Linked DNA regions of Homo sapiens. The protein of the gene in region 1 purifies or fractionates together with the protein of each later gene. This does not show direct contact. Each region holds a gene or a part of one and is shown on either strand. Other genes may lie near its edges.

Evidence for each region.
Region 2: the proteins of SLC44A5 (region 1) and MACO1 purify together in Homo sapiens (affinity purification with mass spectrometry; one large-scale study listed by BioGRID and IntAct). This does not show direct contact.
Region 3: the proteins of SLC44A5 (region 1) and DNAJC16 purify together in Homo sapiens (affinity purification with mass spectrometry; one large-scale study listed by BioGRID and IntAct). This does not show direct contact.
Region 4: the proteins of SLC44A5 (region 1) and UPK3BL1 purify together in Homo sapiens (affinity purification with mass spectrometry; one large-scale study listed by BioGRID and IntAct). This does not show direct contact.

What each region holds. Positions count from the first base shown.
Region 1 is NC_000001.11:75,601,115-75,604,614, forward strand, and holds part of SLC44A5 (choline transporter-like protein 5), read right to left. Parts: intron 1-3,500.
Region 2 is NC_000001.11:25,458,397-25,461,896, reverse strand, and holds part of MACO1 (macoilin), read right to left. Parts: coding exon 3,005-3,500; intron 1-3,004. UniProt on the Homo sapiens protein: Plays a role in the regulation of neuronal activity.
Region 3 is NC_000001.11:15,543,848-15,547,347, reverse strand, and holds part of DNAJC16 (dnaJ homolog subfamily C member 16 isoform 1 precursor), read right to left. Parts: intron 2,950-3,500; coding exon 2,765-2,949; intron 582-2,764; coding exon 477-581; intron 1-476. UniProt on the Homo sapiens protein: Plays an important role in regulating the size of autophagosomes during the formation process.
Region 4 is NC_000007.14:102,636,525-102,639,791, reverse strand, and holds the end of UPK3BL1 (uroplakin-3b-like protein 1 precursor), read left to right. Parts: intron 1-592; coding exon 593-669; intron 670-957; coding exon 958-1,078; intron 1,079-2,158; coding exon 2,159-2,267; 3' UTR 2,268-2,767; downstream 2,768-3,267.

The sequences.
Region 1 (3,500 bases):
TTTGGCTAGCGACATTTCAGAGAAATTTATCCATGAGATCCTCATAATACAGATTCTAAAAACAGTGATCAGCACAAGAAATAACATCCCTTGAGTTCATGTCATTTGCAGGGACATGGATGACACTGGAAACCATCATTCTCAGCAAACTAACACAAGAACAAAAAAACAAACACCGCATGTTCTCACTCATAAGTGGGAGTTGATCAATGAGAACACATGGACACAGGGAGGGGAACATCAAACACTGGGGCTTGTCGGGGGCTGGGGGGCTGGGGGGCTAGAGGAGGGACAGCATTAGGAGAAATACCTAATGTAAATGACGGGTTGATGGGTGCAGTAAACCACTATGGCATGTGTACACCTATGCAACAAACCTGCACATTCTGCACATGTACCCCACAACTTAAAGTATAATAAAAAAGAGAGAGAAATAACATCCTTGAACTTAATACAATGTCAAGTTTCTCAATGCCAGCCAATATTATAACAGGTAAGCACAAATCAGCAAAAGCACTTCTGCAGGGACCAAAATAACACAAGCTGGGTAAAGAGCTATCTCAAGGTCTGACTGATTCCAGGAAAAAAATTTAGCATATCTAAAGCAATGAAAATCTTGCATCTTTATTTAGAAAATCTCTCACAAATTTCCCTTCCATAAAGATCACTCAACGACATCATCTAACCACCTTCCCACCCCGAGTTGTTTTCCTAATGATTCCTGAGACATTGGTCTGACAATGACAGTTCTCAAAATTCTCAGCCTCAAAACAAACAAAAACTCAATTTTCAGAAATACAAGATGCAGCATAAAAACTCATTAAATAGGGCCAACTGAAGGAAGTCTGAACTTGTGAAAATTCTGAATATTCAAAAGTTATTCCAGTCCTTTAATACAAGCAATTGGCTAAAGAAACTACTCATTAGACTTCCTCAAAGATTTGCTTTAGTAAATGATTATTTCTAATTAGTATACTTTTCTACCATTTACTGCTGTTAAAAATTTGAAAATGGGTTGTTTTCCCAAATAGGTTAAATAGGTTAAATGCCTCTCTTGACCTCGGTCAACTTATTTATAATCTATTATTTGCCTACGCTTCATTATACCTAAGGTATTTATTCAGGCAGTGAGAGTTTACAGAAGTTAAAACATAGGGAGCCTTGGTCTTAGAATTAGTCAAGTGAAGGCTATGTCCTTCTTTTGTCTTAGTAATGTTTCCATAAATCATTAAATACAAGTTGGTGTGTAGGAAGTGTGATAATTATTCAATGCAGTTTTCATAAAGTTCAAAAAATAATATGTATTAACGTAAGACTTTCTGAGTGGTTAAGGATTGTGGAGGGGTGTATTCCAAAGCTGTGCTTTATAATTTCAAGCCTATCATACCTCATACAGTTAAGATATCCCTGGACACATCTATTTATGATTAAACATTTTTTAAAGAGCAATAATGGTCCTCCTTTAGTCACCAATACTCTTTCAGTAAAGCAAAGGTGTTAAATCAGCAGAATCAATGTCATTGCCATGAGTAAAGAATGTGATGACATTCTTGTGCAACCAAACAAAAGTGTGATAAGAGGCTGAGATAAATAAGAAAAATGTGTTTTTCACTTCGAAAAAAAGTATTTCAAAGTGAAAGGTGCTGTTAATACTAGTTTGTGAAGCATAAATGCCCAGTAAGTAGCTTTTACCTTTTTTGTTAAATTTTATGACTTTGGATATTTTTAAACTTGTACGTACAAATGTATATAATCATAGGCTAAGCTTAAAATAAGTTTTGACTTTCCTGTAAGGCAAATCTAGAGTAGTAATACATTTTTAATAAAATGTAAATTTATTTATGTATATTTAATTTGGGTTTGAGAGTTTTTCAACATTTATTTTAGATTCAGGGGGTACATATACACATTGTTACCTGGTTATATTGTGTAATGATAAGGTTTGGAGTACAGTTGATCCTGTCACCTAGGTACTGAGCATAGTACCCCACAGTTCATTTGTCAACCCTTTCCCCCAACCTCCCTCTCCACTCTAGCAGTCCCAGTATCAATTGTTGCCATCTTTATGTCTATTAGTACCTGTTGTTTAGCTCCCACTTATAAGCGAGAACATGTGGTATCTGATTTTCTGATACTGCATTAATCCATTTAGGATAATGGCTTCTAACTGCATCCATGTTGCTGCAAAGGAAATGATTTTGTTCTTTTTTTGGCTATATAGTATTCCATAGTGTATTTGTACCTTTTTTTTTTTCATCCAATTCACTGTTGATGGGCACCTAGGTTGATTCCATGTCTTTGCTATTGTGAATAGTGCTGCAATTAACATGCGGGTGCATGTGTCTTTCTGGTAGAATAATTTGTTTTTTGAGGATATATGCCCAGTAGTGGGATTGCTGGGTCAAGTGGTAGTTCTGTTTTAAGCTCTCTGAGAGACCTCCAAACTGCTTTCCACAGTGACTGAACTAATTTACATTCCCAACAGTGTATATATGCTTATAAGCATTCCCATTTCTCTGCAGCCTCACCCAAATATTTTTAAATTTTAATAATAGTTATTCTGACTTATATGAGATGGTATCTCGTGATTTTTGATTTGCCTTTCTCTGGTAATTAGTGATGTGGAGCATTTTTTCATGTTTTTTTTTTTTTTTTTGCTGCTTGTATGTCTTCTTTTTTTTAATTGTATGTCTTCTTTTGAGAACTGTCCATTCATGTCTTTCTTTTGCCTATTTTTAATGGGGTTATTGGTGTTTTACTTGTTCAATTGTTTAAGTTCCTTATAGATTCTAGATATTAGACCTCTGTCAGATGCACAGTTTGTGAATATTTTCTCCCACTCTGTAGGTTGTCTGTTTACTCTGTTGATAGTTTCTTTTGTTGTGCAAAAGCTACTCAGTTTAATTAGGTCTCACTTGCAATTTTTGCTTTTGTTGTCATTGCTTTTGAGGACTTAGTCATAAATTTTTCCCAAAGTCAATGTCCAGAATGGTGTTTCCTATGTTTTCTTCTAAGATTCTTATAGTTTGAAGTCTTACATTTAATTCTCTGATCCATCTTGAGTTAATTTTTCCATATCAAACAAGGTAGGGGTCCAGTTTCATTCTTCTGCATATGGATAGCCAGTTATCCCAGCACCATTTATTGAGTAGAGAGTCCTTTCCCCATTGCTGATTTTGGTTTACTTTGTTGAAGGTCAGCTGGCTATAGGAATGCAGCTTTATTTCTGGGTTCTTTCTTCTGTTCCATTGGTCTATGTGTCTGTTTTTGTACCAGTACCATGCTGTTTTGCTTACTGTAGCCTTACAATATAGTTTGAAGCCAGGTAATGTGATGCTTCTGGCTTTGTTCTTTTTTCTTGGGATTACTTTGCCTATTTGGGCTCTTTATTACTTTATTACTTCCATATGAATTTTAGAATAGTTTTTTCTGATTCTGTGAAAAATGCCATTGGTAGCTTCATAGAAATAGCATTGAATCTGTAGATTGCTTTGGGGAGT
Region 2 (3,500 bases), about 50 Mb from region 1:
AGAAAAATGTGAAAATGTATGAAAATAAAAAGAAAAAATAAATGCCCAATACTATCAAGGGATAACAACTATTGTTAACAATTTGGTTATTTTCCCTTTAAATCATTTTTCTATGTATATTAGAAAAAATTGTTTTTCATTAAATTGCTTTCTCCTTTATTCATGAAATGCTTTGACATACTTCCCCATATTCTTTAATATGGCTTGAAAGTATGATTTTATAGTATCTATATGAAAAGTTTATCAAATGGATGGACCATAATTTATTTTAAATTTCTCCCATTATTGGATATTTACATCACCCTTTTTTTTGAGGGGGGGGAAGGAAGAGAACCAACATTTATTGAATGCCTGTACCTTAACAACAGCACTATTCTATTAGTTTTATCTCAACTTTCCAAGAAATGGAAATCAGAGGGGTCAAATAATATGCCCAAGGCCACTCAGACAGTAAATAGAAGGTCCAGGATCCAACCAAGGTGTGATTTAAAAACCTATATTCTTTGCATAGTATTCTTTATTTTATTTTATTATTATTATACTTTAAGTTTTAGGGTACATGTGCACAATGTGCAGGTTTGTTACATATGTATACACGTGCCATGTTGGTGTGCTGCACCCATTAACTCGTCATGTAGTATTAGGTGTATCTCCTAATGCTATCCCTCCCCCCTCCCCCCACCCCACAACAGTCCCCGGAGTGTGATGTTCCCCTTCCTGTGTCCATGTGTTCTCCTTGTTCAATTCCCACCTATGAGTGAAAACATGTGGTGTTTGGTTTTTTGTCCTTGCGATAGTTTGCTGAGAATGATGGTTTCCAGTTTCATCCATGTCCCTACAAAGGACATGAACTCTTCATTTTTTATGGCTGCATAGTATTCCATGGTGTATATGTGCCACATTTTCTTAATCCAGTCTATCGATCCCCTTATTTTTTATAACATTAAAAGTTGAAAATAATACCATGGGAGCTTATAAACCTACTTAAATATAATGTTGTCTATTAGTCATTTGATAGTAAGTAGTTCTCCAAAACAGAGTAATACCTGGGACACTGTAGGTCAAGGCAGAGTACGCATTAGTGACCACAAGAAGCAGCATACTCCTTAGGTGTAGGCACGGGGGCACTGGACCCATGTCATCATCTCCAGCTTACTGGACAATTAGCCATCTGGGTCCTTGAACTTCTCTACTAAAAGCAGATCAGATAGTAGAGTCAATCAATATCACAAACCATCATTTAGTAATAGCTTGACCGCTATTACTAAACTTGTGTCAGCCTGGGCAACATGGCGAGATCTCCTCTCTACAAAAAAATTAAAAAATTAGCCAGGCATAGTGGCATGCGCCTGTAGTCCCAGCTACACAGGAGGATGAGGTGGGAGGAAAACCTGAGCCTGGGGAGGTAGAGTCTACAGTTAGCTGTGATCACGCCACTACACTCAAGCCTGGGCAAAACAGTGAGATCCTATCTCAAAAAAAAAAAAAAACATGTGTAGGAGAAAGGATGGTAAATAGCTGTGACAGATGTTTTGTGTATAGCATTTAGTGAATTTGTGGGATATTCCTCTGAAATAGAAGGTAAACTAATTGGTCTTTCTCCCATGGGCATCTGGAGGAGAGTTCTCTTCCACGTGTTTTTTCTGCTGGGCACAATGGCCAGAATGTCCTAACAAATGGATATGGATGCCAGCCAGGCAACAGCAAATAGCACACTTCCAAAAGTAGCCTGGGGGCTGTGAAACCTCTAGAGCCTGTATTAGTAGAACCCAAATATACCTCGCTTAGTTTAACTGCCAATCAGAAAATTAAAACAAATTAATAATCTAGTTCATACCATTTATAATGCTGGAAAGCCTCCCTCCTAGAATAAACGGACTGCCTAAAGGGCTGCCTAAAGCAAGCCAGAGAAAGAAGAATATAACTTACTGGAAGGGGAGAGTTTCAATTGCCCTCTTGAGTTACATACACACAAAAAAGCTCCAGTTTAGATCTCAGTTTCCAAATTAAAGATCTGAGGTGAAAGGAACATATTTGTGTTTGCCTAACATAAGCCATATAAAATATAGTAAAATTAAGTCTGAGCCAGTCAATGTAATAAAACAATGTTATTCTTTTATGGCCGGGCACGGTGGCTCACATCTGTAATCCCAGGACTTTGGGAGGCCGAAGCAGGTGGATCACCTGAGGTCAGGAGTTTGAGACCAGCCTGGGCAACATGGTGAAATCCTGTCACTATTAAAAATACAAAAAAATTAGCCTGGCGTGGCGGCAAGCACCTATAATCCCAGTTAGTTGGGAGGCTGAGGCAGGAGAATCACTTGGAGCCAGGAGGCGGAGGTTGCAGTGAGCCGAGATCGTGCCAGCCTGGGCAATAGAGCAAGACTCCGTCTCAAAAAAAAAAAAAAATTCTTTTAATTAAAATGAGAAAAGCAACATTCCTAATTAAACTTTGTGTCTAACACTGTTTCTCCATGGATTTTTGTGAAAGAGATTGCTTTTCAAATCTAACTTTCCCAGAGTTATCTAGGATAATTCATATTCTAAGTGCAGAAAAACAAACAGAAAAACAAAACAAGCACAAAGTAGTAAGGACAACTTTCTCACCCCTCTCCTGCAATGTATATCTGTTTGACAGAGATTTGCGTGAACAAGCACAAACTCTTCTTTTTGTGTTTACGCCAAGAGAACTCTGGACATGCAAACAGAAAAGGACAAGGACCAAAGAAGTGCCTTACAACACGACTAGAAGAATCAAGTTACAGGTCAATTTGTCACATGTGGGAAGTAATCAGTGTCACTCATTATTCAGAACACTGCAAAGAGCTGAAATCAATGCTTCAACACAATAACACAAGGTGGCCAACAAACTCATGTAAAACACCACACGTCACTAGTCACAATATCTGATTACAAACAATCCCTACAGGCCCATATGGGAGTATGTCAAGAGTATGTCAAGTTTACTGGAAAGTGTTAGTAAGGATGCAGCATGTGCACTTACCTGACCAGTGCGTCTGGTTTGCTTAGCTGGTTATTAGGAATACAGTTTTCCATTAAGTCCTTGTGTGTACTTGGGCTCTTGCTAGTGCATTTCTGCTTCTTCTCATTTTTACTAGATGAGGAAGGAATGCTCCCATTTGTGGCGCTATGACTTCGAGGTGAAGAGTTCACAACTCCACTGGCATTTTTGTAATTTTTTGAGGAAGCAGTGCATGAGTCCTCTTTCAAGAGATTTTCTGTACTTCCCACAAGATCATTATTTAATCTTTTACTATTGATATGGTTTTCCATATACTCAATCTCTTGTATTTTAGAGTCTACAGGTTGTAGAATATTGTTGTTATTTATTCCAAGGTTGTGTTTTTTGGCATCCTTGTCCTTTTCTTTCCCTTTTTCTCGGTATTCTATCTCTGGCAAAGTTGTGGAGAGTTTTTTGTTGGCTGGGATACCTCCATTGTGGTGTATAAGGATCGAAGAATCCATATCAGGTAATCCTT
Region 3 (3,500 bases), about 60 Mb from region 1:
GGTGAAACCCTGTCTCTACTAAAAATAGAAACGTTAGCTGGGCATGGTAGCACGCACATGTAGTCCCAGCTACTTGGGAGGCTGAGGCAGAAGAATCGCTTGAACCTGGGAGATGGAGGCTGCAGTGAGCCGAGGAGATCGCGCCACTGCACTCCAGCCTGGGCGACAGAGCGAGACTCTGTCTCAAAAAAAAAAAAAAAAGAAACAGGGATAGTATCTCCATCACTGGGTTCTTCTGAGGATTACATGATATGTGCATAGAAAGCACTAACACAGTAACTGGCATTAATCAGTACTCAATGTATGATGGTTATGTAAAATTTCTGGTCTTCAAACATTTCTCATGGATGAAACTGTTTCTTACAAAAAAGACAAATAGGCTATAAGTTCCAACTCAGAGATTACTTTCTGCTAAAAAAAAAAAAAAAAAAAGAAAAGAAAAGAAAAAGAAACCATTATCCTAGCATAGAAAGTACCTTGTATAACAGTGGCACAATGGGCGTTTGGTCAAACAGAAGGACATGAGGCTTATTCTCTTGCTGCCAGCCAGAGAGGAATCTGACGTAATTTTTATTTGTAACCTTAAATTGAAAATAGAATGTTAGTCTCAATATTTAATTCTTAACAATTGTATTATACTCCAGTCAGGAGAAAATAAACAAATCAAGTAAGTGTAAAAGATTGCAAAAAATAAAAATGCAGATAACTAATCTTTTTGTCTTCATTTGGCTAAAGCTATTAAAAGAATGGTGATATTGATTTCATATTTTCATTGAACTCTTACAGACTGAAATCATAATCCTGTCTGAAACAATTACTGACCATATTATAAAAACTGAGCTTCCAGAGTTGGTTCTTGCTTAATTACAGAGTATACTTCTTAATATACTAGCCAGCAGAAAATAACACACAACTGCCCCTTTCAATATCTATCTATCTACCTATCTATCTATCTATCATCTATCTATCATGCCTCAGTCTCCCATCTATCTATCACACCTCAGTCTCCCAGCTTGCCCCTCACCCTTTTTTCTGAGACAGGGTCTTGCTTTGTTGCCCAGGCTAGAGTGCAGTGGCATGATCATGGCTCATTGCACCCTCAACCTCCCAAACCTCCCAGGATCAAGTGATCCTCCCACCTCAGCCTCCTGAATAGCTGGAGCTACAGGTACATGGCACCATGCCTGGCTAATGTTTGCATTTTTTGTAGAGATTGGGTCTCAGTATGTTGCCCAGGCTGGTCTTGAACTTATGGACTCAAGCGATGCTCACACCTCAGCCTCCTAAAGTGCTGGGATTACAGGTATGAGCCACCACTCCAGGCCAGCTTGCTCTTTTTAAACGGCGTAAATAAAAATAAGCTGGTCCACCCCCTCTATACATTATATAATTTCATTTATTGTTATCTGAATTGTTACTTTCCTCCACTGATATCTTAAAATATTCCTGAGAGAAATTAAAAACATGAATAAATTATCTAGCTAGAAATTTTTCTTAGTCGTTAAAAAAAGTTTATCTTTCCATACTGCATCTAGAATGATTTATATAAAACTCAAATTTGATCATTTCACTCTTCTGCTCAAACCCCTACAACGGCTCCATGTGGGCCAAGGCCCAAGTTCCTTAAAGGAGCGTGAAGGTGCTCTGAGGCCCTCACAGGGAGATTCCTAATAACCTCTCCATCCCCCTCCTCTGCTGCTCACCAGTGAAAACTTCTTACAAAGCGGGCTATTTCATGTCTCCAGATTTCTGCCTGCCTGCAACCCAACCTGGTCCAAGGGTCACTTCTGCCAGGAAGCCTTTCCCAACTCATTACGATGGGCTCCAACATACTGGAAATAACCACCCGCTTGGGAGCTGCTTGAAACGGCTATGTTAATCTATGCCGGGCACAGAAGAGATATTTTATGTAAATGTTTGAGGATCTATCAGGACAATCTATCACCATTTTAGAAGCCTCCAATATTCTCTGACAAACTTTTAAGTTAATTCCAACAAATATTTCTCCTATAGATAATGATCCCAGTAGGACAGTCTAGGAATAGCACATGTAGAAATACGATGAAAATTTTTTATGTTCACTTTCCCTGTATTCTTAAGAGAATGAATTATTTAAAGCAAAATGAGAGTCCGTTCCTAGTTACTTTGATCCCTAAATTAAGATATTGAAAAAAACATATTAGGTGCTTAAATATGGAAATAATAGACCAATGTGAACTTTATCTGGCTTCTCTATTTCAACCTTTTCTTTGTGAAATTCATTCATATTATTGTCACTGTAAGTTTCTGAAGTTTCAAAAATAATATTTGATTTCATGGAATCTGGCATTTTCCATAGATATGATCGTTAAACATATAACCAAATATAATTAAATTTGCATAAAGACAAATATCTTCACATGAACAAATTTATGAGCCAGAAAGAAATCCCTAATTCTTTCTAACATGTGATTTAATTTTTTTGTTTAGAAAATAGGCACTGTCATTTTAGGCTCAGATTCCTATGACAGTGTAAGTTCTGCAAGATGGGTATTAATAGGAATTAATTCTTTCAGTCTCTGTACTTCATCTGTTTCAATTATTAGTCTCCTACAGACTTCACTTAAACGATTTAGTTTGAGTAATTAATTAATTAATAAGTGTCATGCCTTCCTCACAATGAAACTCAGGTTTGAGAGGACTACAGAAAATGTTCTGGGCAATTAACAGTCCTAGGTACCTCTTAAACTACTTCTCAGCCATAGTTTCCTTGACAGATACTTACTTTCTCCACCAAGTTCCCTGGAAGAAGACTTTCTACAAATTGTCGCAGATTTTCACGGACAACTGCATTGTGGAAGAAGGAGATTTTCCCGTTAATGATTCCTAGGATAGAGGGCGTGCTGTGTGCCCCTAGGTGATGGGCCAGGCGTCTCTCATACCCAGCATGGACCACGCCAATTCCTACACCTGAAAAGAATGGAAGATCCAAATGAAGCCTTTTTATGTCTCCATGGCAGCTGGAAAAAGTGCTAAGTAATTTTTTGGTGTGAAATTGAAATCCCGACCTCATAGGAGATGTCTTTCCTAATAGACTGTCTAGCATTCTTTCACTGCTGGAATTCTAGATTGGTTCAGTTTTTCTGTAGAGCAATCTGGCAATATGTAAGAAGAGTTACAAATGTGTGTGTGTGTGTGTGTGTGTGTGTGTGTGTGTATGCATATACATAAAACAAAATGGGGTCATCTCATACTTATTTCACTTAATACTTGAACAACTTTTCTTGTTCTTTCATCCAACCATATATTTGGAGGGCCAGTTACTCTGCTAACACTGGAGACACATTCAATATTAAAGGCCGATAAATGTACATTTTCTTTTGGATGTCTACTAGACTTCTCAAGCTTAACATTTCCAAAAACGAACCCCTAATCTCCTCCCACAGACCTGTCCTACCCACGTCTTTGCCATTTCAGTTGATGACAGCTCCATCCTTCCAGTTACTCAGGGCAAAAACTGT
Region 4 (3,267 bases), on another chromosome or scaffold:
TTAGTAGAGACAGGGTTTCGCCATGTTGGCCAGGTACCTGCCACCATGCCTGGCTAATTTTTGTAATTTTAGTAGAGATGAGGTTTCACCATGTTGGCCAGGCGGGTCTCAACTCCTGGCTTCAAGTGATCTTGAAGGCCCACCTTGGCCTCCCAAAGTGCTGGGATTACAGACGTGAGCCACCATGCCTGGCCTATCCTGCTTTTCTTGAGCAGAAGGTTCCCCACCTCAAGCCCCAGTCCCCACAGGCTGTGTGGACCACTCAGGTGGCGTCTCTCCATCCAGACAGGGTCTCCCCTCACTAAATGCTTGATTCACGCATGTTCAGTTCTGAGACATCTAATACTCGCCCTCTACCTTTCCCAAATGAGGACACAGAAGCCCAGAGAGGGGGAGGGACGTCACACCACTGGAAATGTCACACCTAGATTTGAACCCATTCTGTTGGGCTCTTTCGCCCCAGCCTCCGGCCCCCTCCCCGGGCTGCTCTCGCCAGGGCCTGGGACTCCAGGGGACAGACTTGCAGGCACCAAGTCTGATGGTTTCAGGACTCCGGGGGACCCCCATGTCCAATGCTGGGTCTCCCATTCAGGGTGAAGTTCCTGGTGATGAATGACGAAGGACCCGTGGCTGAAACCAAGTGGTCCAGCGACACTCGCCTGCAGCAAGGTAGGGGCCAGAGGCTCCGGTCAAACAGTAGGGGCAGGGGGCTGGGGCCTGGGGGTCCTGAGGACTGAGGATGGGCTGGGGGAACAGGTCAGCTCACCACTGAGTCAGAGGCAGCCAACCATCTTGCAATCTGCAGGCGCCCCTCCCCCAGCCACCCCCTTCCCCCAGGCCTGGGTGGTAGTAGGGGAGGCAGGGCGGTGATTGGTCTGGATTCTGCCCAAGGGCCCCTTCCGGTCAGGTAAAATTTCTTTTCCTGCCCGCCTGTGCGGCCCCCATCACTGCCCTCAGCCCAGGCACTTCGGGCTGTCCCCGGCCCCCAGAGCCCGGGCACCGTGGTCATCATCGCCATCCTGTCTATCCTCCTGGCCGTCCTCCTCACGGTCCTCCTGGCTGTGCTCATATACACCTGGTGAGTGGACCGGGCTGAGACCGCCCATGCCTCTTGGGAGGGGCGGGGCCCTTGGGCATTAACCCCTCCCTCTCTAGTTCCTCCCCGCCCGCCCCTGCCCACCTTCCAAGCGGGCACTGTGCACCCCCTGGTGGCAGCATCTGGGATTGCAAGTGGGTGCCGCCTGCGGACACCCCAGTCGGGGAGGCGCCCAAGGAGGAGGTGAATTGCTTTCACACCAAGCTCTGAGCATTGCCTCAAGACGCCATACAGGCCGGGTGCGGTGGCTCACGCCTGTAATCCCAGCACTTTGGGAGGCTGAGGCCCGCAGATCACCTGAGGTCAGGAGTTCAAGACCGGCCTGGCCAACATAGTGAAACCCCAGCTCTACTAAAAATACAAAAAATTAGCCGGGTGTGGTGGCACGTGCTTGTAATCCCAGCTACTCAGGAGGCTGAGGAAGGAGAATGGCTTGAACCTGGGAGGTGGAGGTTGCAGTGAGCTGAGATTGCATCACTGCACTCCAACCTGGGTGACAGAGTGAGACTCCATTTAAAAAAAAAAAGGGGGGGGTGTCAGGATTTCATACAGAGCTCAGGTGCCTGAGCCTGGGGCACAGAGAGTGTCCACAAGGCTTCCTAGAGAAAAGGGGAGACCTAGCCCTGTTGGGATTTGGGGAGGAGGGGGAGAGGGAGTGACTAAAAAGGGGGTGGGGAGGTGTGGGGGCAGGAGGGGCAGGAGGGGTGCATGCAGCCAGGCCAGGCCAGGGGCCCCAGGTGCCTAGCTGAGGAACTGGGCTGTATCCTGCAGCCTATGGGAGCCGGGAGTGGGTTTTGATCAGGGGAGACAGGCAGATAATGTTTGAGCGGGGTCCTGAGGTGTGGAGGGTGGAGGGGGAGAGTGATGGGGAGCAGGAGCAATGAGCTAGATTTGTGAGGTTTGAAGGAATCGCCTCAGTCCCTTTGGTTAATTCTGCCCAGCCAGTGGAGTCTCAGTTTCCCCTATGCGATGGGTCAGAGCATGCTAGCCAATGGCTGTGGGATCTCGGCCAGAGCCTTTCTTCAGCATCCATCATCTCTCCCTCTCTCCTCCCCTCCCAAGCTTCAACAGCTGCAGGAGCACTTCCCTATCAGGCCCAGAGGAGGCAGGGAGTGTGAGAAGATACACCACGCACCTCGCGTTCAGCACTCCTGCCGAGGGGGCTTCCTGAGGGGTTCCAGAGGGGCCCACGTGTCCCTCCACCTCCTCCCTGGCCCAGGCTGCAGAGCCTGAGCTGGGACACGCCCTGAAGCTTCTGGACCCTGAGAGAGATTGTTTCTTTTCTTTACTATTTTTTTTTTTTTTTTTTTGAGACGGAGTCTCACTCTGTCGCCAGGCTGGCGCGATCTTGGCTCACTGCAACCTCTGCCTCACGGGTTCAAGCGATTTTCCTGCTTCAGCCTCCTGAGTAGCTGGGACTACAGGCACACGCCACCATGCCCAGCTCATTTTTGTATTTTTAGTAGAGATGGGGTTTCACCATGTTGGCCAGGATGGCCTCCATCTCTTGACCTTGTGATCCGCCCGACTCGGCCTCCCAAAATGCTGGGATTACAGGCGTGAGCCATCAAGTCTGGCGAGAGAGATTGTTTCTAGATGAGGGTGGGGGCGGGTGTCCTTAGCCCAAAGCTTGTGCCAGTCTCTATCGGAAATAAATGCCCCCAAAACCTCCCTGCCTGTCCGTGACATCATACACCTGGGTAGTCTTTCTGCACCACTGCCCCTGGCTCCTCCTCCTGAGGAGGTCCCCAAGGGCGTGTAGGACCAGGGCAAGGCTCAGGATCCTAGAGAAATTGTCACCTGGGGCAGGACAGGCCTCTCTGCCAGCCTTACTGTCCCTATCTGTAAAATGAGGATGGTAACCCTGAACCCACAAGGCCACAGTAAGGCTAAACCAAGGTGAACATGCCTTGGGAACTGTGAAGACTGTGGACCCAAAGCCGGTTGCGGTGGCTCAGGCCTGTAATCCCAGCACTTTGGGAGGCTGAGGCAGGAGGATCACTTGAGCCCAGGAGTTCGAGACCAGCCTGGGCAACATGGTGAAACCCCATCTCTACAAAAATGACAAAAAATTAGCTGGGCTTGTTGGCGGACTGTGGACCTGAGATAGGTGCTCCTCTTGTCCTGCCCAGACAGCCTCCTGGTAACCAAAGGCCACGGGGCAGCATGGC